Homo sapiens: one gene and its partners. The protein of the gene in region 3 purifies or fractionates together with the protein of the main gene of each other region. This does not show direct contact. Each region holds a gene or a part of one and is shown on either strand. Other genes may lie near its edges. The genes, in order: TSC22D1, TSC22D3, NRBP1 and DNA2.

What was found.
Region 1: the proteins of NRBP1 (region 3) and TSC22D1 purify together in Homo sapiens (affinity purification with mass spectrometry; 6 studies listed by BioGRID and IntAct, with this or other methods). This does not show direct contact.
Region 2: the proteins of NRBP1 (region 3) and TSC22D3 purify together in Homo sapiens (affinity purification with mass spectrometry; 5 studies listed by BioGRID and IntAct, with this or other methods). This does not show direct contact.
Region 4: the proteins of NRBP1 (region 3) and DNA2 purify together in Homo sapiens (affinity purification with mass spectrometry; 2 studies listed by BioGRID and IntAct, with this or other methods). This does not show direct contact.

The regions. Positions count from the first base shown.
Region 1 is NC_000013.11:44,433,331-44,441,490, forward strand, and holds part of TSC22D1 (TSC22 domain family protein 1), read right to left. Parts: intron 3,963-8,160; exon of another isoform or gene 3,846-3,962; intron 3,529-3,845; exon of another isoform or gene 3,299-3,528; coding exon of another isoform or gene 3,174-3,298; intron 2,766-3,173; coding exon 2,714-2,765; intron 1,554-2,713; coding exon 1,296-1,553; 3' UTR 685-1,295; coding exon of another isoform or gene 635-684; 3' UTR 1-634. UniProt on the Homo sapiens protein: Transcriptional repressor. Acts on the C-type natriuretic peptide (CNP) promoter. Acts to promote CASP3-mediated apoptosis.
Region 2 is NC_000023.11:107,772,135-107,780,280, forward strand, and holds the start of TSC22D3 (TSC22 domain family protein 3), read right to left. Parts: upstream 3,654-8,146; 5' UTR 3,286-3,653; coding exon 2,966-3,285; intron 1-2,965. UniProt on the Homo sapiens protein: Protects T-cells from IL2 deprivation-induced apoptosis through the inhibition of FOXO3A transcriptional activity that leads to the down-regulation of the pro-apoptotic factor BCL2L11.
Region 3 is NC_000002.12:27,431,158-27,439,317, reverse strand, and holds part of NRBP1 (nuclear receptor-binding protein), read right to left. Parts: intron 6,070-8,160; exon of another isoform or gene 6,065-6,069; 5' UTR 6,045-6,064; coding exon 5,835-6,044; intron 5,646-5,834; coding exon 5,523-5,645; intron 5,330-5,522; coding exon 5,228-5,329; intron 4,848-5,227; coding exon 4,758-4,847; intron 4,597-4,757; coding exon 4,556-4,596; intron 4,186-4,555; coding exon 4,091-4,185; intron 3,596-4,090; coding exon of another isoform or gene 3,572-3,595; intron 2,566-3,571; coding exon 2,482-2,565; intron 2,272-2,481; coding exon 2,213-2,271; intron 2,057-2,212; coding exon 1,958-2,056; intron 1-1,957. UniProt on the Homo sapiens protein: Required for embryonic development. Plays a role in intestinal epithelial cell fate and proliferation, thereby involved in the architectural development of the intestine potentially via the regulation of Wnt-responsive genes.
Region 4 is NC_000010.11:68,419,974-68,426,973, forward strand, and holds part of DNA2 (DNA replication ATP-dependent helicase/nuclease DNA2), read right to left. Parts: intron 2,918-7,000; coding exon 2,724-2,917; intron 2,632-2,723; coding exon 2,542-2,631; intron 2,457-2,541; coding exon 2,252-2,456; intron 1-2,251. UniProt on the Homo sapiens protein: Key enzyme involved in DNA replication and DNA repair in nucleus and mitochondrion.

The DNA of each region.
Region 1 (8,160 bases), on a different chromosome or scaffold from region 3:
GTCTCTTCTCTTACCTGCTGAACAACTCAATGTGTCAATTTCCTTTTACTTCATGCAGTCAAATCACGCCCCTACTTTTCCAATCATTCCACTGCCCTTCAGGATTTTACTAGTCAAATTGTTAACTTTACCTGGAAACAGTTGTGGAAATGACTGCCATTATGTTAACAGGGTCATATGAAAAACACTTGTTTATCAACATTTATATGCTTTATTGAAAGTTGACAAGTGCAACAGTTAAATACAGTGACACCTTACAATTGTGTAGAGAACATGCACAGAAACATATGCATATAACTACTATACAGGTGATATGCAGAAACCCCTACTGGGAAATCCATTTCATTAGTTAGAACTGAGCATTTTTCAAAGTATTCAACCAGCTCAATTGAAAGACTTCAGTGAACAAGGATTTACTTCAGCGTATTCAGCAGCTAGATTTCAGATTACACAAAGTGAGTAACTGTGCCAAATTCTTAAAATTTCTTTAGGTGTGGTTTTTGTCATGTAGCAGTTTTTATGTAGATCTATATATAAAAGTCCACACCTCCTCAGACAGCCAATGAAACAACTAAATTTCAATCTGTACAACCTAAATAGTAGTTACAGTCCTCTATTGTACAAAATAGTTACACTACATACACAAATATACAATAAGCAAAACAACCTTCATGGTAAGATAGCCTAGGTCCCAGCTACCTGTCACCATTTTGTCACTCTCATAGTTTTGTGTCATCCATTGTTTGAGAAGAAAGAGGCACAGTACTATTGTTTTTTATGAATTTTGGTGACAGTTGTCAAATTTGTACAGTGAACTCTGTTCCCCCTCATTTTAGTCTTTTTACCCTCCTTTCAAGTTCCTCCTGGGGGGAGGAGAGGAGAGAGGCGAGTCCAGTGAGGAGCTCCATCGCTTCACAACCCCATGTAGGACACTAAGCGCAAGCAGGAGAGAGAACCCTTGGAAGTGAGGGGTAGGGAGCCGGAAGGGATGGAAAGGCACACAGCTCCTGAGCATGAATTAAACCATTTCTCAGATATCTGCCAAGCTGCATGAGGTCCCGGTATATCCATGCTAATTCTCGGATTAACCTTTAATTCACCCAACTAAGAAATTTCTCCAAGCCATAAGCATATGAGTGTTTAATACTGGAAAAGAGATAATGGCATATGTCAGTCTCACGTCTCTTTCGCAGCGAGCAATGAAATGGGTGACTGTGGAGGCAGATTCTCCCTAGCACATCTTCTCCGTCTGTTCAGTTCACACGCAGCAGCCAGTTCTGCGGGGGCATAGGCAGCTATGCGGTTGGTCCTGAGCCCTGCGATGCTGGCTGGGCGGGGGGCTGTGTGGTGCCCTGTGGCTGGGTGGTGGCAGGGGGGGAGCCAGTCTGCAGCTGGGCCTGAAACTGGGCAAGCTGCTCAGGACTGGCCAGTGTCTTCAGCAGATTGTTCTCCTGCTCCAGCTGGGAATTTTTCTCTATTAGTTCTTTGATTTGCTCTTTGAGGACCTCCACTTCTTCTCTGACCGCATACATCAAATGGCTTTTCACTAGATCCTGGAAAGAAGACAGAAAAGGTTTAACTCATTATTTGGTATTTTCTGGACTCTTTTGAGTTTCCAAGACATTATTTTACATGGATCTCCCTAACTATTTACATATTCCACCTTTAAAGTTGGTTCAATGACACTTGGGGAAATCTGAATACAAACATGACTGTACAATACTTGAGTTTAACGTATAAATGATCAAGCTTTGTAAAAGTCTGTGCTTCTCTGCAGACGTTGGCCAGAAACGCCCAAGTAAGGCTTCCTGAGACTGGGCCAGAGCCGGGCGCTGGGTCCCCGACTGAGACCAGCAGCGGGGACGTCCAAGCCACAGCGCGCCCACCGCGTCCCCGCCCCCAGGCCCCGCCCCGCGCTCGCCCGGAGCCGCCTCCTTCAGCACCGGCTGCAGCCAGTTCCTACCGAACATGTTGCCGCATTTTCTTCCCTCCACCCCGCCCCCCTCTTTTCGTGATTAAGCTGACATCACAGAAACCTGGGCAGACGTCGCAGCCAATGGGAGCCCGAGTTATTTATAGCTCCGAATTAAAGGTTCAGAGTTTGCCTAGCAACAGTGGGCAGAGAATCCCGTGAGAAGAGCCACAGGCGCTGCTCCAATAACAAAGAACGGCCAAGGCGGAAATAAAAAATAGGAGAAATCCAGGCGCAGGCTAAGAAAACAAAACTTTTTCTCTGATTCTTCTTCATTGTGAAGGAGCCCGCGCCACCGGGGACCCGTTTGTGCACCGTCTAGAAGACCCTTATCCAGGATCCCGACTTCTGGGGCCCTCCCCACCTCCCGGCTCCCTAGTAAAATATTAGGATTCCTAGTAAAGCCACATCGCTAAAGGTGTGCTCACGACCAGCCGAAGGAGATAGTTGGCCAGCGCTTCCCTAATAAATCCCCAGCAAAAAGGGTCACCGTGAGAAAATCCCGTCGTGTGAAACCAGTCCGGGGAAGAAGACCATTTAATACCCGCAGGGCCCCTTTCTCCCTCCACGGCTGCCGTGGTAGGTGGCTCCACGCTGGCCGAATGGAGACAGCGCCGGCATTTCTACGCGCATCAAGAGCAATCATCATCATCTGAACTTAGGGATGCACTGGTTCCACAAAACATCTTATTTTTGTGCTGTGCCCACATTTAGTATAAATGATTTTTCATCAGTACATACCATAGCTTGCTCGATTTTGTTGTCAATAGCTACCACACTTGCACCAGAGGAGCTGAAAAAGAGGAGGGAAAAAGGTCATCGATAAATGGAATTTATCTTAAGCTTCCAAGATAAAAAGGATCTCCCAATTTTGTGATATTGCTAGCATCATATTTTGAATGTTATTTAACACTATGTAATGTATCACCCTCCAGAAAATGCCAGCCCCTCTCTTACTAACGAATATCCAGGCATCTCCCTATTTTAGTAAGCCACAAAGGACTAAATTACATAATGTGGGGAAAGCCTGTTCTCTGGCCAGACTTGCAAAAATAAGGTTTTTTAACATTTCGAAAAACAACATCCATGTCACCATAATCTCTCAGCAATGGACAAAGGAATTCGCCTGGCTATCTTTCACCTGTATTATTATAAGTATCCCACGAATAAATTTAAAGAAACTATCTTAGCCGACATTTACCTATTATCAAGTCTCACAGAAGCGTTTTCAGTCCCCAGCAAGGATGACAAGAAAGAAATTGAAAAATGTCTCAGTTGGTAAACTCCTAGATCCATCGCCACTGGTCTACACCATTGGGATTTCATGCAATTGCAGCCAAAAACACCCTCGTGGAAAAAAAGAGGGAACACCAGCAGCCTTGTATAAGCTAGATAAAATCTTCTGGCTTTCCGCAGCCCAGGGAGAAACAGAAAACGGCAGCCCTAATTTAAAGAAACCCAGCTTCTAGGGCTTGATGATCCCAGGCAGATGCGGATCCCAGTGCCGTGAAGAGGCGCTTCCCAGATCCGCAGCCGGGCTCCACTCAGCTCTAGACCAGGACTCCCAGTCTTAGTGCAAAATATATGCAGGAAAGAGCTGCGCCGATTGGCCGGCACGCCACTGGGACCGCCCCCTACTCCCTTCCAGGTCCTCCCGCTTCCCTGCTTCCCCGCCTCCCCCCACCCCCACCTCCGCCCCCATTCTCCAGATCCCGCTCGTGGGGTGGGCTGGCCTGGCGCGGGCCGTGCTCAGAGGGAGTGGGGTGCTGGGTTCGGAGGTTTCCACGGCGGCCTCAAAACACTGGGCCATTGCTTCGGCAGAAAATGTGAAGGGTCCCTGAAAAATACTATGGGGGCCCCCACACGTGCTTACGTTTAAGGGAGTCAGACCCCGGTCCCCGGAGCTGTGTCCCGCGGCTGCTTAACGGCGAAAGCTTCCTATTTGTAACCCGAACCGTCTGAGCTACTGGGCATGCCCAGTCCCACCACTGTAAGACTTCGAGTGTCTTGATTTCAATTATCTAGTTCTTACCGGCAGCGGTACTGGGAGGATTTTATAGACGGTTTTATTTTTAAAGATAATAATCACCCTGCAATCATGTATTTTTTTAATTTTAGAGGAAAAAAAATCACATTTGCTCTTTGAGAGATACTACCTTTTGTTTTATAGAAACAAAACAAAAAACATTATATATTCTTTGCTAGGCATGAGGGAAAGACTCCAGATAAAATCCAGGATCTTCCCAAAAAGCCCGTAGAGCCACAAACCTTAAAATCACATCTCCCTATTAGCATCTTCTCCCTAGTAACTAAATATGCCTTCTTCTATTTAGACCCAAAAAAGTCAATCCACAGGTTGAATTCCACATAAATCTATTTTTAGTTAAGTCCCTAAGGCACGTTTTTGCAAGCTGAGTGACAATTCCTCTAAGACTCAATCCCTCAATCCTATGAGCCTTCTTACATCAGAGGGATTGAAATATTATAAAGTATGTATTCAAAGCATACAAATCCTTGAAGTTAGTCTCTGCCCATTTGCAGTGTCCAGAACCAGAAAAGGGAGGATATAATGGTGGTTAAAAATAGTTAAGCAGCCAATAGATGCTGTAGGCTCACCTCTGTTTCACCCTCTTGGCCACACTGACCAAATAATTCCCTTCTCCAAACCAAAATCGAGAGATGTGGGTATAAAATAGCTTAACCCTTTCAAAATTTCCTATATTAATTTAAAATACTTGCAGGGATGCATCAATTAAGGCTACAATTTAATATACTAGAAATCTAAGCCCTGAAGTTTGCTAAATTATAATACAACATAAACAGTTTCCAAGTCAATACATGCGAGAAAGAAAACTTAACCTCTACAATACTGCCCTCTAATGGCATAATATAAAAACCAAAAAATCTACAAAGTACTTGGGGAGACCTCTCTAATCTGTAGATAAAATTGTGTCATCACAAATAATTCCAACATAAAATCTGACCGTAGAACATATATATGTAATACACGCACATGCACAAACACACACAGTCTTCTCTCCAAAATAAGCATCTTTCCTCAAGCAGCATCCTTTTCTAAAATTGCCATCAGATCCATTTAGACAGTTTTTAAGTTGACTCAATGCTGGTAGTGGGGGTAGGTAGATTTGGTTTTCAGAAACTGTCCAAAGTTATTAGGAACCAGACCAGATCGGTAAGCACAGTAAATGATGAAGACCACAATTCTCTTTTGGGTTAAAAACCAAAGTGTGACCAACTATAAAGTGATGAGATTCCCTTTTTACTGAAAGGTTCATATTCTCCAAATTTTAAGGCTTGGCTTTTGAATAACAATAATTGTTAACATATTTATAATTTATAAAAATTACATATATTAACTCATATGATGCTTTAAAAAAAAAGATACCCATTTCCAACAAAAGGAGACTAAGTAGAAGCTTAGAAATCGTAATTATTTGGGAAGCTGGCATGTGGTCCCTATGTCTATGAATGCTAACCAGAATATTATTTACTACATGATAGTCTCTATATTTTGAAAGTTAAAGTTATACCTAAAACTATTTGTATGCTAAATTCCATTTACATGTTTTAACTGAATGCCAACTTCATGAAAAAAGGGTATTAAAGCACCATTTAAGCTATAAAAAGAGCTTTAAAAAACAAAACTCTAAGGTCATATAAAAAAATTTTTAAATTCCAAGCTGCAGTTTTAAAAAATTACTAAATTAACTGAATTTATTCATGCCGTTCTTCAACATAAACAGAAAGCTGTTTTTATTTCAATCATTTTAACTGATCATCCATTGTATCAAGCAAGAGAAGCAAATATAAGCAACCATAGTCTATTTAACCCATTTTCCTATTGAAGGACATTACAGTTATTGTTAATACTTGGATATTTTAAATAAAATTGCAAGGAACATCCTTCTACATACATCCTTGAACATGTATGTGTGTGTGCACACTTCTGGAGAATTTGTTGAGCCAAAGGATAGGCAACTAAAAAAATGATTAGAAATCTAATTTTCTCATATATTTCACATAAATATGCTAGATTCCTTTAAAACTAGACTTTTGTATGAAAACTGAGAAGACATAATTTGAAAAAGAAGGCAAAGGAAATGGAAAGCTCCATGGAGGGAAAACCCTTGGATCAGAAATGTCCGTGGCACAAATGGCTAGAATTACATTCAAAGGCTCTTCTAATTGCAAGACAAACGATCCATATGTCTGGTGCCTCATCAGAGCTCACTGAGACTTGCTGACAGGGCAGAGAAAAATACTACAAGGCTTCCAGGAGAGATCCTTAAAGCCATGGACCATATAAGTCTATTTCAGGCACTGAGCAAAGATCAGGAGGTATCACCTCAGTGGGAACTCATACACATTAAACAGCCTGGACAATTGAGATTGAGGTATTTTCTAGTGTTGTCTGCCTAAAAGCCTTTTTACACAGATTCCAATTCAACTGCTACTGCATATTGGTAGCAAGCATGACAGGATAGGAAAAGAGGAACAGGCCTGAGTGTTTCTGTTTCCTGTAACATGTGCTTTTCTTCCAAACTTAATCTGACTTGGCCAACACCGGTACAGTTGGAGATTCAGCACTGAAATAGAGTAACCTCTTTCTCCCCCTATCCAAACTCCTTGCAAATCTAAAACAACTGCCAGGAAAGAAGCGAAGGCACATTACCCTGTACCTGACCAAATCACTGCTGTCTAAGGACTCCCACGTCACCTCCATTTTTCTAGTTTACTCTCACTAGGCATGGGAATATACTTACCAGGTTTAACAAATGAAACTACAGGACTATCAGTTAAATGTGAATGGCAGAAAAACAACAAATAGTGTTTTAGTGTTGGGTCCCACACACTGTCAAAACAAGAAGAAATGCCAAAGAAATGGCTGTTAAATTCAACCACAATTTACATTTCCTTATCTCCACAGAAAGGCTGGTTGGAAAAAGCTTCCAAAAGAGTAGAACAGTGGCCGGGCGCGAGCGCGATGGCTCATGCCTGTAATCCCAGCACTTTGAGAGGGTGAGATGGGCGGATCACTTGAGGTCAGGAGTTCAAGACCAGCCTTGCCAACATGGTAAAACCCCGTCTCCACTTTAAAAAAAAACAAAAACAAATAAATTAGCTGGGCGTGGTGGCACATGTCTATAATCCCAGCTACTGGGGAGGCTGACGAAGAATTGCTTGAACCCAGGAGGCAGAGGTTGCAGTGAGCTGAGATCGCATCATTGCACTCCAGCCTAGGCAACAGGGCAAGGCTCTGTCTCAAAAAAAAAAAAAAAAAAAAAAAGAATCGGAAAAGAAAAAGGATAAATCTAGGAGGTCCAACATCAAAATAGGATGCATTTCTATTTTGGAGAGAGAACAGAAGGAAGAGAATTATCAAATAATTTAAGAATTGTTCCAGAACTGAAGGACACAAGTCTCCAGTTAAATGAGATGACCAAATGCCCACCACAAGAAATGAAAAAGCCCTCCACCAAAGCACACCACCCTGAAACCTTAATCACTAGGCATAGAGAGAAAATACTAAAAGCTTCCAAATGGAAGAAACAAGTTACAAACACAGGGACTAGGAACAGAACCACTTTGCTGGCAGTCAGAAAAAGATGAAGAAAATGTCTTTAAAATTCTGAGAGAAAAGAGTTTTTTTATCCAGAATTCTTTACTTGGCCAAATCATCATTTGAGTGTAAAGGTAGAATTAAAACATTTTTAGATATTTCAGACACCAAAATGGAGGAGCAAATCAAGAAAAAAGGCAGGCATGGGAAATAGGAACCAGGAACTCAGATACTGGAGGAAAGGAAGGGAATCAGCAGGCTGGAGTGCAGGGAGATCTCAGGGGGACTGCTGCTGGACAAGCCCAAGCTGCAGCTGGTCTGTACCTGGTCTGCAATGGTAAGGGAAGATGGAGAACTCCAGGAGGGAGAGCTTCCGTGCTAATGAACACACAGATTATCTAACACATCTAAGCATTTGCAGGGCACAGGTGAGCTACTGATAGGTGTATGATAGATCTAATGGAACAATTAGATAAGCTCAAAGGCAGTTTTACTGAAAACAGAGCAAGGAAGAAAACACGGAATGCTCATAAAATATACATGACCCATATTATTTTTTCATTTTTTTGTGGATTTACCTTTTAAAAGTTAACTTTATTGAGAAGGT
Region 2 (8,146 bases), on a different chromosome or scaffold from region 3:
GGACAGGTCAAAGCAGACAAACCAGATGTAAATCAAGAATGTGCCCTGCTCTTCTTCCTAAAAATATAGGAGCCCTCTTGGCAAAGGAATGGACTGCAGGAGGAGGGGTGGGAGACTAGCTTCTCCAGCAGGAGAGGCCTTGAAAGTTGACAAAGGAAAAAAGCACCCAACAGGAACCTGAAATGTCAAATCATTAAATTGAATAGAAGTAAAAACGATGGCTGAAGTATGATGATAGAAACCCAGGGAATTTAATGAAGTAACAAGGGATATGTTCACTTAGGAGAAGGCTGTCTACCCCAGATATTGGAGAAGCCCCATGACCAGCAATAATGGTCTTCTAGTTTGCTAATGAGCATGTCATACTGGGCAAAACCTAAACCGAATTCAGAATCCCCAGTCTCTAAGGTCCCAATTGTCAAGGAAAACAAGAGGGGATCAGTGGCTCATGCCTGTGATCCTGGCACTTTGGGAGGCTGAGGTGGGCAGGTCGCTTAAGCCCAGGAGTTTGAGACCAGCCTGCACAACATGGCAAGATCCCGTCCCTATAAAAAAAAAATACAAAAATTAGCTGGGCATGGTGGTGTGTGCCTGTAGTCCCAGCTACTTGGGAGGCTGAAGTGGGAGGATCGATGGAGCCCAGGAGTTTGAGGCTGCAGTGAGCTGTGATCATGCAACTGCACTCCAGCCTGGGTGACAGAGTGAGACCCTGTCTCAGGAAAAAAATAAATAAATAAAAATAAATAAAAGCAAGAGAATACTTTGTCCTCTTAGAACTATAAGACTGTTACCACAGGACCCTGTTATTCCCAGCCTTAGCGAAGCCTGAGAGCTTGCTGGTTAGCTCCTCACTGGTTTTGAACGCTGAGTGAGTTGCTCTGATCGAAGGAGGCAGGGTGCTCACACAAACCTTTCCTACAATTTGCGCTTCTCCCTCAACCAATACCTATAATGCCACCCCACTACATCTCCACCCTGTAGCATTTCCAGGCTTTGCCTAAAACCAAGAGTCAATAAACTCGTATTAGTGGAGTAGATGACAAAGGAGGTATTCCCTTTCCACAAACCCAAACAACCAGGATGCTCCCGAGGTGTGGCAGAAGGAAACACTTTGATCTCAGGCTTTTAGCCTCACACTTCCCTCACCCAGGTTTGACCCTCCTAGGGCCAGAACCAGAAGAGGCGCCCCCTCTCACACTTTCCTAAAGCCTGGAGTGGCAGTTTCTCTCCCAGTTGAACAAATGCAAATGCTACAAGCGCTCTTTCCAGGTTTTTCTACTACCCCTCCCCCACTGCCACTCTCCAACAGAGACAGGCGGGATCCTTAGGAGCCTGTTAGGGCTTTCGCTTGGCAGGATTTCAACGTCTGTGGGCTGAATACACTTGTAGTAATCTTTCACTAGAAATGAAGATTCCCTCGAAACCTTTCTGCCCGCAGCCTGGTTTATTTTATTTTATTATTTTTAAAAATTCAGCCTGGTTTATTTTAGACAATGAGATAATTTGATGCCTAAAGTGAAATAATAGATGAGAAAGGGCTTCAATGGTGTCGAAAATGCCCGAGGAATACGACTTGTTATAATAACACTAACGAGGTTAGCGGCCCTGCTTGTCTTGCCCAGAATCACTGGGGCTGGGCTGAGCGGGAGGCGATGGTGGATTTGTCTTGGGGCAAGGGAGGCAAACCTGCTCTTAGCATTAAGTGAGAATAGCGCCTGCCTTTCTCGATTGCTTTTAAAATTTCCTATTTGAGCCTGCTTGCATTCTAAATATTTTGTAGGTGCTCAGAATTTCTTATCACTTTGTCTGGGCACATCGCCTGCCTACAGCCTAGAATCTCAGAGCTAAAAGGAACCTTGGAGAGACTAGAGAGGTCAGGCGACTTGCTCAGGCTCATACAAACAGGTGAAGCCATAACTTGTACTACAACCCAGGTCTCCCACAGTGGCGATGTCTTTCTCTTACATAACCTGTGTTGTTGAGCAAGAATAAATCCTCGCTTATACACTCACACACACATGTTGGTGCCCTATCCTGATGGCGCTAAGGACACTAAATCCATGGCTGGGTTTCCTGATGTTGTCTGCCCTGCCTCTAAATTGCCTCAGTTGTTCCCAGAGACTGGTTCTTGCCAGAGTGTCTCAAACTGAAGGACAGCAGCTGCCTTGGGTCTTCCCATTGTGTTTTTTCCCTCCCTTGTCCTCTCCTTGCCTCCCCAGCAGGATTTCTAGAAAGCTTGACCGGTACACCAATACACGCCTGCAACGACATGGATTCATCCGCCCTCCTGCCACACATAGTTCTTGAGGCACTCAAGATGTCCTAGGGTGCTCTCTGGGGTTGCGCTTAGCTTACATTTGAAATTTAACGCTGTGATCCATGGAGGAGGCGAATCCCTCCCATCCAGAGGCTCAAGAAATTCTCACAAGTCTCTGATTTTTAAAAATTTTCCCCTCCCCATCTCCCTCTCCTACCACCAGCAGTTTAATTTGTCTTGACATTTTGCTTGCCCTCACTGTCAGTCAGGGGCACTCAGTAATTTTAAAGCCCTTGTAGTTTCAATCTGATTTTGCACATTTGAGATGGGCTTTTGAGAAGGGTAGAACTTGGAACTCAAGAAGACCCCATGGCAGAATCTCCAAAGGGGCTATGGAAATGTATGCATTTGAGGAGCGGGTACTTTCAGCTACCTCCAAACCATCTGGGGTCTGCCCACCTTCTAGGCCCCAGCGTCCCCATCAGAAAGCCTTTGCAGGCAGCTTTCAGAATAGGGCTTGCACCTGCCAGTCCTCCCCTCAGCTCCGCGGTACTCCAGGCAACCTCAAGGTCCAGTCACTGTAGCCTGAGTCAGACCTCCCCAGTACCCCTCCTGAACTTCCTAGTTGCCCCTTTTGCCAGAGATGAGGGTGCAGCAGAGGCTGGTGGGAGCAAGGACCGAGTTGCCGCCGTGTGCCGAGCCACCCACCTGTGGAAGAAGAGCAGGATGGAGAGCATGGTCTGGTCGATGTTGCGGTTGCAGATGCCCTCGTTGATCAGGTAGCAGGGGTCCCGCAGCACCGGCTCTAGCGAATCCTGCCGCATTATGCTGTTGAGCTTGTCGGTATTGAGGTTCTCAAAGACCAGCTTTTCCTGCAGCTGCCGAAAGTTGCTCACTGTAGGGCTGCCCGGGTTGTTGTTCTCCCCGCTGCTGCCTCGCTGGAGCCCACTCCGATGGGCCAGGTCCAGGCAGCAGTTGCAGCAGTCGAGGCCGACAGGTGAGCGGCAATCGAGCTTGGACTGGGCCATCTTCTCAGGCTCGGAGGTCGCCTGGCCTGCGAGGTCAGGGGCGGCTGGCAGGTGCGCGCCCACCGAGCTGGCCTGAGGGGACTCCAGGGTGCCTGGAAAAGACAAGCTGTGAGGAAAAGAGTTGGAAATTAGCGCCTAAAGCCAGCCACCTTCGGCTCGGCCCCCTTCTGGCTGTACTGCTCCGGGTGCGAATAGAAACAGCTGGACAAACAGCTCCGAGCGGATCCTTCGGGCTCACTTCCTCCTCTTCCTCCTTCTCCTCCCCCTCCTCTTGAGGCCGGGGGCCGCCCCCCTGAGGTGCCACACGCGGCCCCAGCGCAGTCCCAAGTTTCCCAAGTGTGAGCGGGGATTGGGGCGGACCTGTGGAGGCAGGAAGGGCGGGCAGCAGGGCAGAGGGAGAGCCAGGGCGCGCCCTTGCTCCCTCCCTCCTTTGCTCCCTCCCTCCCCGGTTTGCAGGCTCTCAGGCTCTCGGGCTCCCCTGGGCTGTGACGGCTGAGCGGTGGCAGGAGCTGAGAGCGAGTGAGCTAGTTAGCGGTCTGCACGCCCGGGAGTCAGCACTGGGATATGACAGCATGTAAATTACCCTAGAGGGGACGGCGGAGAACGGTCCTCCGCCACTTCTCCGGCTGGCGGGCGGGGGCCCCGAGCGGCTGGATCCTGTCCCTCCACCCCTCGCCCCACCCCGCCCGCACCCTTGTGCCCTGGCATCCACGCTGCCGCTCGCACCCTCGCCCGCGCTCCTGGGAGCCGGCCCGGCTCTCACTCTCTCGGCGAGCCGGACGCTTCGGTTCAGGCTCTTTCAGCGCTCATGGCGCATCCTCCGCCAGAAATACGCACGCAGCCCACCCGGGCTGCCGTGCCCCCTCAGTGGCCCGGTCTCGCGGGGCTCGAGCTCGGCGTGAGGGCAAATGTCTCTAGTCTCACCTCGAATGGGTCCCCCTACAGAAGAGACGACGCCCTCGAGAGCCCCAAGTGTTGTAGCCTTAAACTGCCGCCCTCCAAAGCCCCCCTTTTTCTGGGGGGGGGGCGTGCAAGGAGAGCGGTTGCCTCTGCAGAGAGTCAGAGAGTGCCAGGCACACATTAGGAGTACCCAATAAATGCCGTAAGCAAAACTCAGAGAAGCACGCTCAAACTCTCCTCAGTTTCTGTCTCTTTCTGCTTACTTAACGATATCGTCACCTCCTTTCCCCAGCTCGCTGTGTCCTCTCTTCCCTGAACCCCTCAGAGGCAGTCTCTGTCCCGGTTTCCCTCTGCCCCTTCGCCGTCTCTCCTCAGTCCTCCCCTTCCTTCTCTCTGCTCTTCTGCTTCCACTCATTCCACTATTTCCCTTATTTTTTCTCTTTTCTTTACCCATTTCCTCTACTTTCTCCCCCATTTCCATTCTTTTACCTTTCTTTCCTTATTTCTTTTCTCCTTTTCTCTATTTCCTCATTTCCCCTTTCTCCCCTTTCCTCTTTTCTCTCATTTTTCTCTCCCCTACCCCCGCCATTTCCCTTATTTTCCCCTCATTTCTTACTTCAGCACCCCCTCTTTTTCCTCACTTCACTTACCTTCTCCTATTTCTCCAAATTTGTTGTCCTTCTCCTTTTCTGAACCTTACCTGCCACCTTAGTTGATCTCCGTCTGTCGTTACCCTTTCAATAGATGTAGCGATTGCATGTTCACAGGCCTGAGGGGCGTGCCCCAGCTCTGTAAGATGGAGGGATGTTCTGGGTGGGCAAGTGGTGGGTTTCCAGGGTTTCTCAGGACTCAGAGACTTGGAATACTTTAAATGTGTAGGATTAAATAACGATTAGTGTCTGAAAAAACTAAACTTTTCATGACGTTCAGTTTTCACGTAAAACTGACTTACATTTCAGTCAGTACTCCCCACCCCCGCATCGGCTCCTTCATTCACAAGTCTGGCCTTTGAAATAGAGCAGCATATACTGCCATCTAGTGTCCAAGACGTTGAACGTTCTCTGCCTGCGTCACAGAAGCTCGGAGAGGCACCAGAGGTACCTCCTGGTGGAATCCACAGTGCGTTGGTTCCAAGAGTAGCAGGGAAGAAGTGTAGGAGGCGGAGCTGCTACACTAAGAGAGTTCTGTGGCCAAGCTAATAGGCAGGAACACGCTCCTACACTAAGAGAGCTCCAGCTAATAGGCAGGAACACCAATTAGGGCCAGAGCCGCCCTTTTTTCTAGTGGAGCTTCACTTGGCCTGAGTCCCTGCGGATTGGACTTCCATAGATTTGAAACTTCCTCCGGGTACCACAAGCATCAGGCCTGTGATTAAGAGCAAAGAGCGGCCAACTATTGTAACTCTTATTCCCAAGGCCCTGTGGGTCCTATATGTGCCCTGCAACTTGGGGAAAATGGAGGTGGGGTTGTGGTCTCTATGCTGTAGCAGCCGGAAAGCCAAAAACAAGCCGTACTTCTCGCTCTTGACAGGATCCCAAGGTCAGAGGTGAAAGAGGTGCTGGGGGTCACTGACCATACCTGCAAAACTGAGAGTATGGTCCTTTCGTTCTAACAGACTGCTGAGGAGTCTCTATTTCTCCTCTCAAAAGCAAACCCTTTAGATGTATTAATTTCCCTTTTTCTTCTTCTTCGCTTTTTTTTTTTTTAAATGTTCTTGGGTAAAAGCCAGAGGAGGTAGTAGAATATGAAATTTCATCTGCATTGTGTAGACTTATAGTCTACTAAATTGTTTTGTAATTACAGTGTTTATGTTTTTTCCTCTTGTTTATAATTATTTCATGTTAAACGTTATAGCAAAATATATTAGACCCATAAATGTTTATTTAAGTTGTGTTTTGTGAACTGCTGGGACTTTTGTTTCTATATTTGCCTGAGTCCTTTTATCTTTGTGCATAACCTTGGGATGAGGCCCTGGTAGAAGTATTTCCTTCTTGGCATTTGGCACCATTAAACTCAAGATTCTGTCCCCTTGACATTTCCCTTGTTGTAGTCCTTGCTCTCAAGCAGTATTGTTAATAATTCAGTACAGCTTTCCATACTATATCCAGGTTGATCAAGAGTAAATATAATTGAGATATAAAAAAACTACATAGTTCAGAGATAGAGTTCAGGAGCTGGTATGTATTTGCATACAAGTCCAGCTTGTATTGACATATTGCACACCTCCTCAGGAGAAGGCTGACTGGGCAGGGCCACCTTGGCTCCCTTCTGTGAAGCCTTGCTTTGCTGACATATATTGCGTTGGATGGAGAGACTCCAAGCAGCAAAACGTTTTGCATAAACTAAGAAAGCGGAGGGGGGCCCCCACTTCCAGACAGAGCTGGTAGCTTTCTGGGTGGAGCAGAAAGAGGGTATAAGGGGCATCTCTTTCTTGGATGAACTCATTCAACAGTCACTGTGTGCTTGTCCTGTGTCAGGTATAGTGTAAGTGGGGATTCAGAGGTAAACAAAACAGGACAAACTCCCAAAGACTTCATGGTCTAGCTGCAGAAACAGAGCTGCAGACAGACAAAAACAGTACAAATACTAAGTGGTAATGGAGGCCTGGTGTGTGTAGGGGGAATAGGGGGTGGCATGTCTTGGGTGTGGAGGAGGGGTTAGCTCTGGCAGAAGAGAAGGACAATCTAGGTAGAGAGACTAGAGAGACTAGTGAACAGAGGCTTGGGGCTGAGAACAGTGTGTATGCTGATATCCGGGTGTGGATTACAAAGCAGTTCAGTGTTACTGGAGAATAAAATGTGAGACATGGAAGCTGGTATAGTTATAGAAGTGCTTGTTATTAATGTAATAAATAACAATATATAGAAACAACTCTCATAACCATGGCAAGTTGAAAGTAATGATAATTGTAAACATATTTAAAGATACCTGTAGTAACAGTAATGTGACATAAAATTGTGATTTCTATTGGGGACAAAGTCACAGGTACCACTAACACTATCGTGATCTGTTCTCTGCATTTGTAGTTGAAGGAAATCTAAATTTTAGTTAGAGGTTGGTGAAAACAAAGATGTAATATTTTCCCATCTAAGTTAATTTATCCCCTGAATATTTATTTATTTACTTTTTTAGAACGAGTCTTGCTTTTGTTGCCCAGGCCAGACAATGGTGCGATTTTAACTCACTGCAACCTCCACCTCCCAGGTTCAAGCGATTCTCCTTCCTCAGCCTCCCAAGTAGCTGGGATTACGGGCATGTGCCACCACACAGGGCTAATTTTGTATTTTTAGTAGAGACAGGGTTTCGCCACATTGGCCAAGCTGGTTTGGAACCTCTGACCTCAGGTGATCCACCCGCTTCGGCCTCCTAAAGTGCTGGGATTACAGGCGTGAGCCACCGTGCCCAGCCTATCCCCTGAATTTTTTTTTTTTTTTTTTTTTTTTGAGACAGAGTCTCGCTCTGTCGCCCAGGCTGGAGTGCAGTGGTGCGATCTTGGCTCATGCAAGCTCCACCTCCCGGGTTCACGCCATTCTCCTGCCTCAGCCTCCCGAGTAGCTGGGACTACAGGTGCCTGCTACCACGCCCGGCTAATTTTTTTGTATTTTTAGTAGAGACGAGGTTTCACCATGTTAGCGAGGATGGTCTTGATCTCCTGACCTCGTGATCCGCCCGTCTCGGCCTCCCAAAGTGCTGGGATTACAGGCGTGAGCCACCGCGCCCAGCCTCCCCTGAATTTTTAGGGGTCCCTGTTCTAAGGCCAGGTGCTGTGGCCCATGCCTATAATCCCAGCACTTTGAGAGGCCGGGGTGGGCGGATCCCTTGAGGCCAGGATTTCAAGACCAGCCTGGGCCACACGGCAAAACACTATCTCTACAAAAAGTACAAAAATTCCCTGGGCATGCTAGCGTGCATCTGTAGTCCCAGCTACGCAGGGAGGATCACCTGAGCCCGGGTAGGTTGA
Region 3 (8,160 bases):
GAGACGGTTTCACCATGTTAGCCAGGATGGTCTCAATCTCCTGACCTCGTGATCCACCCGCCTCAGCCTCCCAAAGTGCCGGTATTACAGGCATGAGACACCGCGCCCGGCCCCACACTTTCTTTTTCCTTAGTTTCTACCTCTCTGCTTTATTAGTCAACTCACTGCCTATCTTCTTTTCTAAATCTTGCCAAATTTAGCTTCTCTCTTCCCAAACTTACCCAATGTGATCAATATTCACCATTTTTTTATTTCACAAGCCTAGTATCACAATTTCCTTTGCCCACAATCACTGAATTCACCGAATTTCCCAGGATTCCTCTAACGATTCTGCCTTATTTTCTTTCTTTCTTTTTTCTGAGACAGGGTCTTGCTGTGCCAACCAGGCTGGAGTACAGTGGCACAATCACAGCTCACTGCTGCCTCAACCTCCTGGGCTCAAGCAATCCTCCCACTTCAGCTTCCAGAGTAGCTGGGACCACAGGCATGTGCCACCATACCCAGATAATTTTTATTTTTTCATAGAGATAGGGTTTTACCACGTTGCCCAGGCTAGTCTCGAACTCCTGAGCTCAAGTGATCCTCCCACCTCAGCCTCCAAAAGTGCTGGGATTAAAAGTATGAGCCACCATGTTCCACCACCGCCTCCTTTTCTACCTCCTGCATGTCCCATGACAATTAACCTGCTTTCCTGCTTTTAACCTTGAAGGCTAACAAGGTCACATACCTAATCTTTCACTTGAATACTCCACCTCAATGTTGAAGTAGAAACTTACTCCACACTATCCTCCTGACTTCCCACTAGTCTTCTTTTCTCTCCTGTTCCCTACTATACTTATCTAATGAGTTACAAACTGTTCTTGTTTGGACCTTCCTGCCCAGGCTCTGCTTACTATAGTCTATCAACTGATTCATAACCTTATGTCTTTTAAATCTTAGCTCATTATTTCAGGCCACCGTCCCTAACTAAAACTGTATAAATATAAAATCCCAAACAACTGGTTTAATTTAAATTGACTGATGTGCTTAAAAATATAAAAATGGCTGTCTGAGAGTATACAGCAATGGCCTGAAGTAACCATCAAATTAATTTACCTCCATGTAGACACATTCAAATTAACATACTTTTTTTTTTTTTTTGAGACAGTCTCGCTCTCTTGCCCCAGCTGGAGTGCAGTGGCCCAATCTCAGCTCACTGCAATCTCCGCCTCCCGGGTTCAAGCTTGCCTCAGCCTCCCGAGTAGGTGAGACTACAGGCACACACCACCATGCCCAGCTAATTTTTGTATTTTTAGTAGAGACAGGGTTTCACCATGTTGGCCAGGCTGGTCTCAAACTCCTGACCTCAAGTGATCCACCCGCCTCAGCCTCTCAAAGTGCTGGGATTACAGGTGTGAGCCACTGCACCCAGCCAACACACAACTTTTTTTTTTTTCTTTTTTTCTGAGACGGAGTCTACCTGTGTCGCCCAGGCTGGAGTGCAGTGGCGCGATCTCAGCTCACTGCAAGCTTTGCCTCCCGGGTTCATGCCATTCTCCTGCCTCAGCCTCCTGAGTAGCTGGGACTACAGGCTCCCGCCACCAAGCCTGGCTAATTTTTTTTGTATTTTTAGTAGAGACAGGGTTTCACCATGTTAGCCAGGATGGTCTCGATCCCCTGACCTCGTGATCCGCCCGCCTCGGCCTCCCAAAGTGCTGGGATTACAGGCGTGAGCCACCATGCCCGGCTTCCAACACACAACTTTTAACCCCAGCATCATCCATCTTAACCCCCTTACCTGTGTGTTTCTATGCAAAAACATGGTAGGCACCTCCTAAGAAAATGTTTATAGATTTTTCGTGTCCTTTCTGTTATGTTCCCTAGCTCTTAGGAGCATATACCCAGTGGGTACAAAGGAAGAAAAACCAGAAGACATTTGAAGGTCAGTTGAGGAGGGAGTGATCCTGAAGATCCTTACCCTCTGTAATGGGTCTTCTAGAAGCTGGATGGCACTGCTGATGGCTTCCTGTGGCACATATGAGGACTCTCCATTGCCCTGAATCTCCAGCACTGCCATCTTCAGTGAGGAAGAATAAAAAAAAAAGTAGACACCTAAGAACTTCAGTGCTCCCACAATCACTCCCTCCAAGCCAGCGCCTTACTTGTCTTCCCTCCATTCCCAATTCCATCTTCTCATCTGACCCCTTTCCCCCCTCCCCTCCAGTCCCCTCACCTCCAGTGCACACATGCCAAAGGAGTAGATGTCCACTGCTGTTGTCACATTAGTGACTTCTAGGGAAAACAGAGAAGGCTTTGGTTAATCAGAGGATTGGGGGCTAGGGTTGGCAGGAATGCCTTAGGAAAAAAAAAAAAGAAAAGAAAAATATTTTGTATGCTGGTAGAGAAGGCCTAGAAGTTTCAGTTATATTGCCTCTGTACCTCAAGTTATAAGGTGCAAAAGCAGGGGGATGAGGACAGGGCAGAGAAAGCAGGAAGGCTCACCTCCATACTCTGGTGCAAAGAAGTGTAGATTCTTCTGCTCTTCTCGACAAGTCTTCACATGATTGTTGATAGTGTCAGGAGCCACTGGGAGTAGGGGAGACACCCACAATCTGACCATCATCAATGAAGAATAGTCTCACTCCAGAGAGAGGCCCCAAAAGCCAAATTCTCTCCTGAAGTCTCCTTTCTGATGACCCTCAACAGGCACAAACATATTCCCTTTCCTGTCCTGAACTACAGACCACACATGGATGCCACCTACCTCCCCTTTCTTAGGCCTACTGCTTCTCATCTAATGTCCCTAAATCAGGAGCAACAAAAGCACCAGACTAAATTAACAGATACACAGGGGCTTCAGGCTGGTCTAGAAGCAATGAAGTTTAAGGAAAAATTTTCACTTGTACTGCGTTCACCTTCCCTAAATCCCAGGTACCTCTAATCCCTGCTCACATGAAAATATTTGGTTTTAGTTTTTTCATCCACCCTGCAAATAACATAAAAACACAGGCAGCCCTTCCTAATCTGGGACAATTGGAGACCTCAGGAACTTGGATAAATAAGGATAAGAAGTATTAACATACAGCTCAGGAGGTAGCCTCCTTCTTACCCACCTTTGCTGAGTGAAACTCAAAACAGCTCAGAATTGAGCTAATACCCTTGAATCTGTTCCACTTTTAATCCACCAAAACATTTTAGACTCCTGTTCTACCCCCTTATTCCTCAACACTGTCTGCCACAGAGCTGAACGAGGAACCAGGACCAGGCCCAATTTGGACTCACTCAGATCATAAACAATGACTACAAGTCACAGAGAATCTGGGAGCACAGTATGATCTGGGAACTAGCCTGATGATGAGGGAGAACATGAATCCAGGAGGTAAGTGGCCAGCCAGGCAGAATCCACAGGAAACAAGCAGGTTATGAAGGGGCAAGCAGGCGGAGGGCTGGCAGGGCAGAAGCTAAGCAGGCATAATTAGGCAGGGAAGATAGGGGAAGAGGGTTTGCTCCCACGACTGCATGCACTGGGCAGCCGCCAAGGGAGCAGAGGGAGCACAAACAGAGCCCCAAGTGGGGCAGAGGGAGCTCTCACCATTAGCAAAAATCCTATGAAAGACTGTTGGGAACAGAGCAGCCCGTAAGCGGGAGGGAGGAAAACAGAGAAAAGTTGTGAGCGATGGAGCAGCCAAGCCCCAGACAAATGGACACACAAATACCACACAGACACAGCACACAGAAATGTTGTACACTGCATACAATACACAGCAAACGAAAGCACTCACAGCAGGAACAGCCTGGAACCTCCTCTGGCAGGGTCTGGCCCCAGGACTCAAATCAAACCTCAAACCTATCTCTTGCCCTTTCCCAGCCTCTTATCAGTATCTCTGTATTAACCCCAATTTTCCCTTCAAAAAGGTGTAAGATTATATATCCTACCCCCTCTCCACTAATTAACTGGCCTCTCCTATTAATTACTCCTAGCAAGGTCCTTTCTCTTCTCACCAGCCCACACCTCAGAATTTTGCTCTGTTATCCCCCATTCCTTTCATCTTACCCCCATGGTTCCCAAATTCCCGAGGCTCCCCTGCCCAGAACCTCTCCCTCCCCTCACCAGAGCCAATCTTGATGAGTCCGTTGTGCTGGATGAAGATGGTGTCACAGGTCAGGTTCCCATGGATGATGGGGGGGTCACAGGAGTGCAGGTAGCTGTGGGGGCACTGGGCTGTTAGAGGGGCCACTGGGAAATTAAGGGCAGGGGGAACCCAAGGGTTAAGAGGAGCAAGGGCCAGGTCTCCTGCTGGTCACCATAAAGATAATCCCCACACTCTGAATCTCCATTATGCCTGATGATTTAAATAGCTGGATAAGCACTAGGAGAAAGAGGTAGGAGATAAGTGTCGTGGTTAGGGCATTAGGACGCACCCTTTAAAAGACCCGTAGGGGCCCTAATCTTGACAGTATATGATTCAAAGAAAGTGGGGAGAGGCAGAATAGAACAGAAGAGTAGTGCCCTGAAATCTGTTTGGAGTAACTACATCAGGAAATATGGGTAAGAAACTAACCAGGTACTACTTACCTTAGGGCAGAGAGGATTTGTGTGCACCAACGCTTCCATGCCTGGAACAAAGTTGGATCCAAGGGTCAGCAGTAATTCCCTCTCTTAACTCTCTCCCACTAGCTCCTTCCGTCCCTTCCTGATCAGCTTCATTATTAACAGAGTCCTTTTTAAAACCACCCCCAAAAACCAGCCTCAAACTTTGTCTGCTCTCCTTCTATACCTTTTCATTCATCGTCTTGTGGTTCTTTTTGGTCTTCTTCAGAAATTGCTTCAGACTCCCAGATGACATGTATTCTGTGATAAAAATGACCTGGGGAGGCAAAGCACTTACTAAAAGGCCTTATAGTAGAAATGATCCCTTCCCTTGTTAACATATTTTAAATTTGAAGGTTTGTTAAAATTTCTCTCCTTTTGTTCTTAGCTTTACTTACTTAGACTAAATAGGGCAATGAAAACAAGCAATGAAAGTTATGGGAAGAAAGAAGCAAAAGTTCACTCATTTTCTGCCCAATCTATAGCCACACAAAAGGCATAGGTGACAACTGAAGCCCTACTCTTATCGCCATTGCAGCTGATTCCAGTTCTGTTTCAAAACTACCTTGTTTTAATCTCTGAGTGTAAAAGGAACAATAATAAATGTAGCTAGTCTCTTTGCAATAAGTTCAGGAAATATGGGGAAAAAATTCTTACCCTGGCCTTGTTCTCTTTAATGTCAGCCCAATATTTGTGAAACTTAACAATGTTAAGATGCTCCAATTGAATCAGATTATCAAACACAGCACGAACCTTTTCCTGAAAGCAAGGGAGACAGTGGAATAACAGAGTCACAAATCACTGTAATAATCCTGAGAAGCCATTCCCTATCCCTCCCCAGAAACGATCTAACCCCAACATACTCTCCTCACGGGCAGCTTCCCAACACCAATTCCTCTCTAACATCAGTGTTCCAACATTCCCCAGGCTTCACCTTTTCAGCATCACCTACCTCCTGCAGCTTGTAGTTCTTGCGTTCAGAGAACTGTACCTCATTCCACACAACCTCTACACCTTCCTCTGTATCCATGGCCAGGTATGCACTGTCAATACCTGGTACATTCCGTTGATTCACCTGAGAAGAAATTCATATGAAAGAGAATTAAACTTATCTCACAAATCCTCCATTTTAACACTCCATATGATCATCTCCTCCTAGCCCCCAACCTATTGAAGTTTGGTTGGCCTCTTTTAAGACTTTGCTCTTCCAGTTCTCACCTTTCCAGAATTCACTCACCCAAGAGTAACTGTACCATAACCTTACCTCTTCTCGCCTCTTCTGCCAGCGCCCACAGGGCGACTCTTCCAAAATCTCAGACTCATCTTCACTTTCTTCTTCTTCCTCTGGGGAAGCAGCTGAGGTTGTGGAGGTCACAGGAGGTGACACTGATGTCAGGCCAGGAGCTGAAGATGAGGATTCTACCTTTGGGTCTGAGCCACTGCTAAGTACTGTCTGGGACTCCCCCTCCGACATGCTGGAAGGAACACTCAGGCCTGCACTGGTTGGGGCAAATACAGAGGGAAAAGGCAGAGAAAGTCAGGATACATCTGTAAAGATTTAGTAATCCAGGCTGGACGTGGTGGCTCATGCCTGTAATCCCAGCACTTTGGGAGGCTGAGGTGGGCAGATCACCTGAGGTCAGGAGTTCAAGACCAGCCTGATCAACATGGTGAAACCCCATCTCTACTAAAAATACAAAATTAGCTGGGTGTGGTGACGCGTGCCTGTAGTCCTAGCTACTCAGGAGACTAAGGCAGGAGAATTTTTTTGAACCAGGGAGGTGGAGGTTGCAGTGAGCTGAGATCACGCCACTGCACTCCAGCCTGGGTGACAGAGCAAGACCCCATCTCAAAAAAAAATTTAGTAATCCAGCTGAGCACAGTGGCTCACCTCTGTAATCCCAGCACTTTGAGAAGCCGAGGCAAGAGGTTCATTTGAGGCCAGGTGTTTGAGACCAGCCTGGGCAACAAAGTGAGACCCCATCTTTACAAAAAAATTTAAAAATTAGCAGGGCAAGGTGGTACACAGCTATAGTCCCAGCTACCCGAGAGGCTGATGGGAGAATCACTTGATTGCCCAGGAGTTTGAGGCTGCAGTGAGCTATGATCATGCCATTGGCTAGGCAACAGAGGGAGACCCTGTCTCAACAAAAAACAAACAAACAAAAAAAAAGATTTAATAATCCTAATACTTATCTGCAAATTCAAAAGAAAATAAAACAGGCCAGGCATTTGAGACCAGCCTGGACAACATAAAAAGACCCCAGTCTCTACACAAAACTTTTAAAAATTAAAAATAGAAAACACACACCACCTTTGTTTCCTTTAAATCCAAAATCAGAATCAGTCCTAAATACTGAAACATTAACTATTCTCCTAACTCTAGTCTAGAAAAGGGGAGCTATCTTAGTTGAAGATGACCCTCCCAGGAATGACAAACACAAGATTTATGGCAGTCTAATCCCACTTAGAGTAAGGTTCAAATCACCAGCAAAATCAGGTGCTCCATTCCTTCTTGGCAAATACTCATCCAATAGGCTTCCCTTTGAATCCCCAAGTACACCCTATTTTTACTGTGCTCAAGAATTAAGCTATGTGTGGACGGGCACAGTGGCTCACGCCTTTAATCCCAACACTTTGGGAGGCCGAGGTAGGTGGATTACCTGAGGTCAGGAGTTCGAGACCAGCCTGACCAACATGGCAAAACCCTGTCTCTACTAAAAATAAAAAAATTAGCTGGGTGTGGTGGCACGCACCTGTAGTCCCAGCTACTCAGGAGGCTGAGGCAGGAGAATCACTTGAACCCGGGAGGCAGAGGTTGCAGTGAGCTGAGATCGTGCCACTGCACTCCAGCTTGGGCAACAGAGTGAGACTCTGTCTCAAAAAATAAAAAAATATAAACTATGTGGGCGCTATTCAGAACAGATGACTCCAGACTCCAAAATGTTTCAGTGAGACAGCCTTAAGGCTAGACCTGTAGCACCCTCAGCCAACTTATCCAGCTGAAACCCTTGGCTAATTTATCCAGCTAGAACTAACCTTGGCATTCACTATCCATCCCTTCTCTACACAGAACAAGCCCACTAGTCCATGGTGAGGCTACCCTTGGGGCACATGACTGGCAGTTGTTAGTGACTTCATCCCTGATGACCTCACCTTTCCTGTGATGTGAGTGTGACAAATGGGTATTGGTTAACAACATTTTTTTTTTCATTCACTCATTTAACAGATGTTTTATTAAGCATTTATTGTGGGCCAAGCACTGGGCTAAGTCCTTGAGATACAATAACAAACAAAATAAATGCCCACATTCAAGCAGCCACAAATTCAAGCCAGAGCTAAGACTTTAAGCTTCCAGCTTTCATTTCATTCACATTGCTCAAAGGCTCTGAAGTTTCCATTCTCTGGGGGACTAGATCTGATATAGGTTATTTATTTTTTGGCAGAGGGGATGGAGTCTCACTCTGTCACCCAGGCTGGAGTGCCGTGGTGCAATCTCGGCTCACTGCAACCTCCGCCTCCCAGGTTCAAGCGATTCTCCTGCCTCAGCCTCCCGAGTAGCTGGGACTACGGGCACGTGCCACCACACC
Region 4 (7,000 bases), on a different chromosome or scaffold from region 3:
CTACCGACTTGGAGATGAAAAATAGCTTTGTCTAAAAGATGAAGGTGAAAGAATCAACAAAAATGAATATTAATATTAGTCACTTTCAGAAAGCCACGCAGAGGCCACCTATCTGAAACATGCTATGATTGAGGCTAAAATACCTACGAAAGCTGATCACACACTGAGCTTCAAATACTTCACTTTGTTATCCCCCATTTTACAGGAATCAAAGGCAGAAAAGAATAAGTAACTTTCCCAAGGCCTCACAATAAACTGTGGCACTACTATTTGAACTTAGGGTGGCCGGGCGCGGTGGCTCACGCCTGTAATCCCAGCACTTTGGGAGGCTGAGGCAGGCGGATCACAAGGTCAGGAGTTGGAGACCAGCCTGGCCAACACAGTGAAACCCCGTCTCTACTAAAAATACAAAAATTAGCTGGGCGTGGTGGTGCGTGCCTGTAATCCTAGCTACTCAGGAGGCTGAGGAAGGAGAATTGCTTGAATCTGGGAGTCGGAGGTTGCAGTGAGCTGACACAGTGTCATTGCACTCCAGCCTGGGAGTCAGAGTGAGACTCCGTCTCAGAATCAAACAAACAAACTTAGATCTGGGTCGTATATCTGTGCTCTTTCCATTTTCTTGTCCCCTTTTATACAAATAATGGAGCAGATAAAACTGCTGTCCTACCTCCTGATACATCTCTTCAAAGACTACTTTCCTCCTACATCATCCCTAAGCAATCTTGATTTTTTTTTTTTTTTTCTGAGACACCAGGAGATTGCACCACTGCACTCCAGCCTGGGAGACAGAGCAAGACTCCATCCTAAAAAACAAAAACAAAAACAAAAAAGTCGTTGTGCAGATTTCTTTTTAATGACTGGTTTGTAAAAAGGTCTTCATGTGCATATGTGGGGGAGGGAGGTTATGAGAAACCTCTGTACTTTCCACATAATTTTGCTATGAACCTAAAACTGCTCTAAAAAATAAAGCTTTTTTTTTTTTTGAGATGGAGTTTCACTCTGTCACCCAGGTTGGAGTGCAGTGGCGCGATCTCGGCTCACCGCAACCTCCGCCTCCCAGGTTCAAGCGATTCTCCTGCCTCAGCCTCCCAGGTAGCTGGGACTACAGGCGCACCACCACACCCAGTTAAGTTTTGCATTTTTAGTAGAGACAGGGTTTTGCCATGTTGGTCAGGCTGGTCTCGAACTCCTGACCCCAGTGATCCACCCCCCTCGGCCTCCCAAAGTACTGGGATTACAGGAGTGAGCCACTGTGCCCGGGTTTAAAGTCTGTTTTTTAAAAAGTCTTTAAAAGGACATCAATTTATTATACCCTCTGTCCATTTGTAAACCCAGCCCTTTGATAGTATCAGTGCCATTTCCTTTTCTAGGAAATAGAATTATACCCCTGAGTTCACTTTGTGGCCTTCCTTCTTCAAAAGTCAATTTTGATATCTACTGACCTCCAGAATAAACCTCCTCCAAAAAATACTGGGCCTATAGAAAGAAAGACTATTTTGGGCCGGGCACAGTGGCTCACACTATAATCCCAGCACTCTGGGAGGCTGAAGCAGGCGGATCATTTGAAGCCAGGAGTTCAAGACCAGCCTGGCCAACATGGTGAAAGCCTGTCTCTACTAAAAATACAAAATTAGTCTGGTGTGGTGGTGGGTGCCTGTAATCCCAGCTACTTGGGTGGCTGAGGCAGGAGAATCGCTTGAATCTGGGAGGAGGAAGTTGCAGTGAGCCGAGATCATGCCACTTGGGCAACAGAGCAAGACTCCGTCTCAAAAAAAGAAAAAGAAAGGAAAAAGAAAGAAAAGACTATTTTGGGTTGAAGTATGAGAAGTACATTAGTTTTGCCTTTTTTTTTCCCCCCAAGATGGGAGTCTTGCTCTGTCACCCAGGCTGGAGTGCAGCAGTGTGATCTCAGCTCACTGTAACCTCCGCCTCCCGGGCTGAAGCAATTCTCATGCCTCAGCCTCCTGAGTAGCTGGGATTACAGGCACCCACCATCATGCCCAGCTACTTTTTATATTTTTAGTAGAGACAGGGTTTCACCATGTTGGCCAAGCTGGTCTTGAATTCCTGACCTTGTGATCTGCCCGCCTTGGCCTCGCAAAGTGCTGGGATTACAGGTGTGAGCCACCACGCCCAGCCTAGTTTTGCCTTTTAACTGATAAGCTCTAATTAGGGCATGTGCTAATGAAAACTGAGAAATTTAAATAATAGGACAAAATGAGAAAAACTAAACAGAAATTTTTTTTTTTACCTTGTCTGTATTAAGGAAACAAACAGGATTGTTGGGTTCAAATACTCCCATCAACCAAGGATTATCAGAATAGTCAGCATAAAATTCCAGTTCCAGCTTCACATCTTTAAAGTGACGTAGGTTTATCACTGCATTGGCCACTTTGTCTGATCCACACTCCAGCTTGCCCTCATAGGTCAGCTTATTACTTAAGGACATAATTTTACTAAGGGAATTACAAAAGATAACTTTAGTTTTGGTAGATGGAAACAAACATGAAAACCACTCCTAGCTAACACTGTTACAAATACCTGTTCATTCTGTACTGCACGGTTAACTGTACAACAGCACTCTTATTCTGCTCCAGCCTCTTGAATAAGCTTTCACTCATGCCAAGAGCTCTGTCAATAAATCAGATTCATGTTTATCAGTGTACTAAATCTGTTCCTTGAAAATAATCTAGTTTAAAATTAACACTTAAGTGTCTGCCTACCTTGCTTCACGGTTTAGCACCAGGGGAGGAAGCTGCTGATGGTCCCCCACTAACACAAATCTCCGTGAAAAAAAAAGGGGGCCCAGACAAATTGGTTGGCTAATTTGAGAGGCTTCATCCACAATACAAAAATCAAAAATTTTACGGGAAAATATTGGATGGTTTATTCCCATACATGTTGTTGCAACTATAAGCTAAAAACAAGGAAAACAGATCAGTTATTTAACATGTAAAAGAAATGTAGTTTTGTTTCTCTCATTTTTGAAATGAAAAGATCAAAAGGTTTTTGTTCTATGGCATCAGGAATCCTTCGATATTATTTAATTCTGAAATATTTATAGCATGCAAATTTTAATTTTTTTCTACAAATTAAAAATAATCAAGTAAACTTTCCAGACACTATTGAACAATGCTCACATTTGGATATTTCCCAGTGGAAATCTGGAACATTCAAGAGGTAATAAGTTAGTTCTTTTTTTGTTTGTTTGTTTGTTTGTTTAATGTCAACCAGGACTTTGCTTCTGGGAAGATGGAGTACTTTTCCTTATTCTTTCCACAAACGACAACTAAAATCCCTAGGCATTATATATAAAAAAAAAAAACAAAAGAAGACTCTGAAAGGTGGAGAGAAGGCAGACCAGCTAGGGAGCTCAGGACCAAAGAAACAACACAGTAGTTGATTCCCTGGGCTTTCTTTTTGCCTCATAGATCCCAGATTTGGAACTGAAGGAGCCACGGCACACCAGTGGGTGCTAAAAACAGCTGCAACCAAAGTCTGCTCTCTCCAGCTGAAGGAACAGGAAAAGGAAAGCCTAGCTAGACAGAAAACTTTCACACAATAACTACTCTAGCCAAATATCACTGGAAAAAAAGTACAGCCCCACAACCACAGACACCAGCAAACAGGGAGGAGGGTAGATCTCTGCCCTTCTCAAGGCTGTAACAAGGTGCCCCACACCCCACCAGGCGGGTGTCAGAGAAAGCCAAGTAGGGAGTCAGGTCTTTCATCCCCGATGACTGGTAACTGGCACCAACCCCACATGTTAGTAGAGACCACATCAGAAGCCTAGACTTCCACCCCAACCAAGTGGGCCCAGCGGTAACGAGGAACCTCCCACTTTGGTCAAAGAAGGCTGAGTGGGGAACCCACACTTCGACTCCCACCTGGCAGGAATGAGGTGGTACCCCTCTTCCCCTACCATGGCAGTGTGAGAGGAAGCCAGCTAAAACAGAAGTTTTCAGTAACAACAAAATATGCTCATGTTTCAATAAAAAAATCAATAATTAAAGACGAACCAGGAAAATCTCAAACTCAATGAAAACAGATGACAATCTATAAATGCCAACACCAGAATGACAGAGAGGTCAGAACTATCTGACCAAGATTTTAAAGCAGCCACGGTAACAACATTTAATGAGTAATTATGAACACGCTTGAATATGAACCAAAAAACAAAGTCTCAGCCAAGAAATAGAAGATAGAAAGAATAAAATGGAAATTTTAGAACTAAAAATATGATAACTGGGCCAGGTACAGTGGCTCACGCCTGTAATCCCAACACTTTGGGAGGCCAAGGTGGGCAGATTGCTGGAGCTCAGGAGTTTGAGACCAGCCCGAGCAACACAGCGAAAACCGGTCTCTACAAAAAATACAAAAATAAGCTGAGTATGCTGGCATATACCTATAGTCCCACCTACTTGGAGGGCTGAGGCAGGAGGATCACTTGAGCCAAGGAGGTCGAGGCTGCAGTGAGCCTTGATCATGCCACTGAACTCCAGCCTGGGTGACAAAGTGAGTCACTGTCTCAAAAAAAAAAAAAAAAACAAAACAGGCCTGAGGCCGCCGCTAGCCGGAGCATCACCATGAAGTTCAATCCCTTCGTGAACTTGGACCGCAGCAAAAACCGCAAACGTCACTTCCATGCCCCCTTGCACGTGCACCGGAAGATCATGTCATCCCCGCTCTCCAAGGAGCTGCGGCAGAAGTACAATGTCCGCTCCACACCCATCCGCAAGGACGACGAGGTCCAGGTAGTTCAAGGACACTACAAAGGTCAGCAAATTGGCAAGGTAGTCCAGGTGTACAGAAAGAAAGATGTCATCTACACTGAGCAGGTGCAGCGTGAGTAGGCCAACAGCACAACCGTCCACGTGGGTACTCACCCAAACAAGGTGGTTATCACCAGGCTAAATCTCAACAAGGATCGGAAAAAAATTATTGAACACAAAGCCAAGTCTCGACAAGTCAGAAAAGAGAAAGGCAAATATAAGGAGGAACTTATTGAGAAAATGCAGGAATAAATATAACCTGTTGTGCAACCATGGTTTAACTGAGATTTTTAGGCTAGTGTGTGTTTCTTTGGAACTTTTCAGAATGTCTCTGGAACATTTCTTTTTTTTTTTTTTTTTTTTTTTTGAGACAGAGTCTTGCTCTGTAGCCCAGGCTGGAGTGCAGTGGCATTATCTCGGCTCACTGCAACCTCCGCCTCCCAGGTTCAAGCGATTCTCCTGCCTAAGCCTCCCGAGTAGCTGGGATTACAGGTGCCTGACACCATGCCCAGCTAATTTTTTGTATTTTTAGTAGAGGCAGGGTTTCACTATGTTGGCCAGGCTGGTCTCGAACGCCTGACCTCGTGATCCACCCGCCTCGGTGTTCCAAAGTGATGGGATTACAGGCATGAGCCACTGGGCCCGGCCATGTTTGTGTTCTTTTTTTTTTTTTGAGATGGAGTCTCGCTCTGTCTCCCAGGCTGGAGTACAGTGGCGGCGATCTCGGCTCACCGCAAGCTCCGCCTCCCCGGTTCACGCCATTCTCCTGCCTCAGCCTCCCAAGTAGCTGGGACTACAGGTACCTGCCACCATACCCGGCTAATTTGTTGTATTTTTAGTAGAGACAGCGTTTCACCGTGTTAGCCAGGATGGTCTCCATCTCCTGACCTCGTGATCCGCCTGCCTCGGCCTCCCAAAGTGCTAGGATTACAGGCGTGAGACACCGCGCCCGGCCATCTCTGGAACATTTCATTTCCTGTTTTGTTACCTGAGGCTCTGTAAATCTACTTTTGCAAATTTAATTAATAATTTTATAAATAAAAATGGGAAATGTTTCATAATTCAAAAAAAAAACAAAAACCCCAAAAACCCAAAAAACAAATACCAGGCCAGGCGCTGTGTCTCACACCTGTAATACCAGCACTTTGGGAGGGCAAGATGGGTGAATCACTTGAGGCCAGGAGTTCAAGACCAGCCTGGCCACCACAGTGAAACCCTGTCTCTAATAAAAATACAAAAAATTAACCAGGCATGGTAGTGCATGCCTGTAGTCCCAGCTACTTGGGAAGCTGAGGCATGAGAACCATCTGAACCTAGGAGGCAGAGGTTACAGAGAGCCAAGATCGGGCCATTGCACTCCAGCCTAGGTGACAGAGGAAGATTCTGTCTCAAAAAAGAAAACCTTCAGCATCTGGGGCTAGACAGAGTTCTTAGACTTGAGACCAAAAGTATAATCTATAAAAGGAAAAAATGTATATTCCGGACTTCCTCAAAAAAAAAAACCTTTTGCAGCCGGGCACAGTGGCTCACGCCTGTAATCCCAGCACTTTGGGAGACTGAGGTGGGCGGATCACCTGAGGTCAGAAGTTTGAGACCAGCCTGGCCAACACAGCAAAACCTCATCTCTATTAAAAATACAAAAATTAGCCAGGTATGGTGGCTCATGCCTGTAGTCCCAGCTACTTGAAAGGCTGAGGCAGGAGAATCGCTTGAACCTGGGAGGCAGAGGTTGCAGTAAGTGGAGATCACACCACTGCACTCCAGCCTGGGTGACACAGTGAGAGTCTGTCTCAAAAAATAAATAAATAGGCCGGGCGTGGTGGCTCACACCTGTAATCCCAGCACTTTGGGAGGCCAAGGCAGGCAGATCACAAGGTCAGGAGATGGAGACCAACCTGTCTAAGAGACGGTGAAACCCCGTCTCTACTAAAAAAATACAAAAAATTAGCCGGGCATGGTGGTGGGCGCCTGTGGTCCCAGCTACTTGGGAGGCTGAGGCAGGAGAATGGCGTGAACCCGGGAGGCAGAGCTTGCAGTGAGCCGAGATTGTGCCACTGCACTCCAGCCTGGGCGACAGAGCAAGACTCTGTCTCAAAAAAATAAAATAAATAAATAAATAAAACTATCTTTTGTTCTGCATAAGACCCTATGAGGAGGATAAAAAGCAAGCGATAGAGTGGGAGAAAATACCTGCAAACCACATATCCATTAAAGGGCTAGTATTAGAA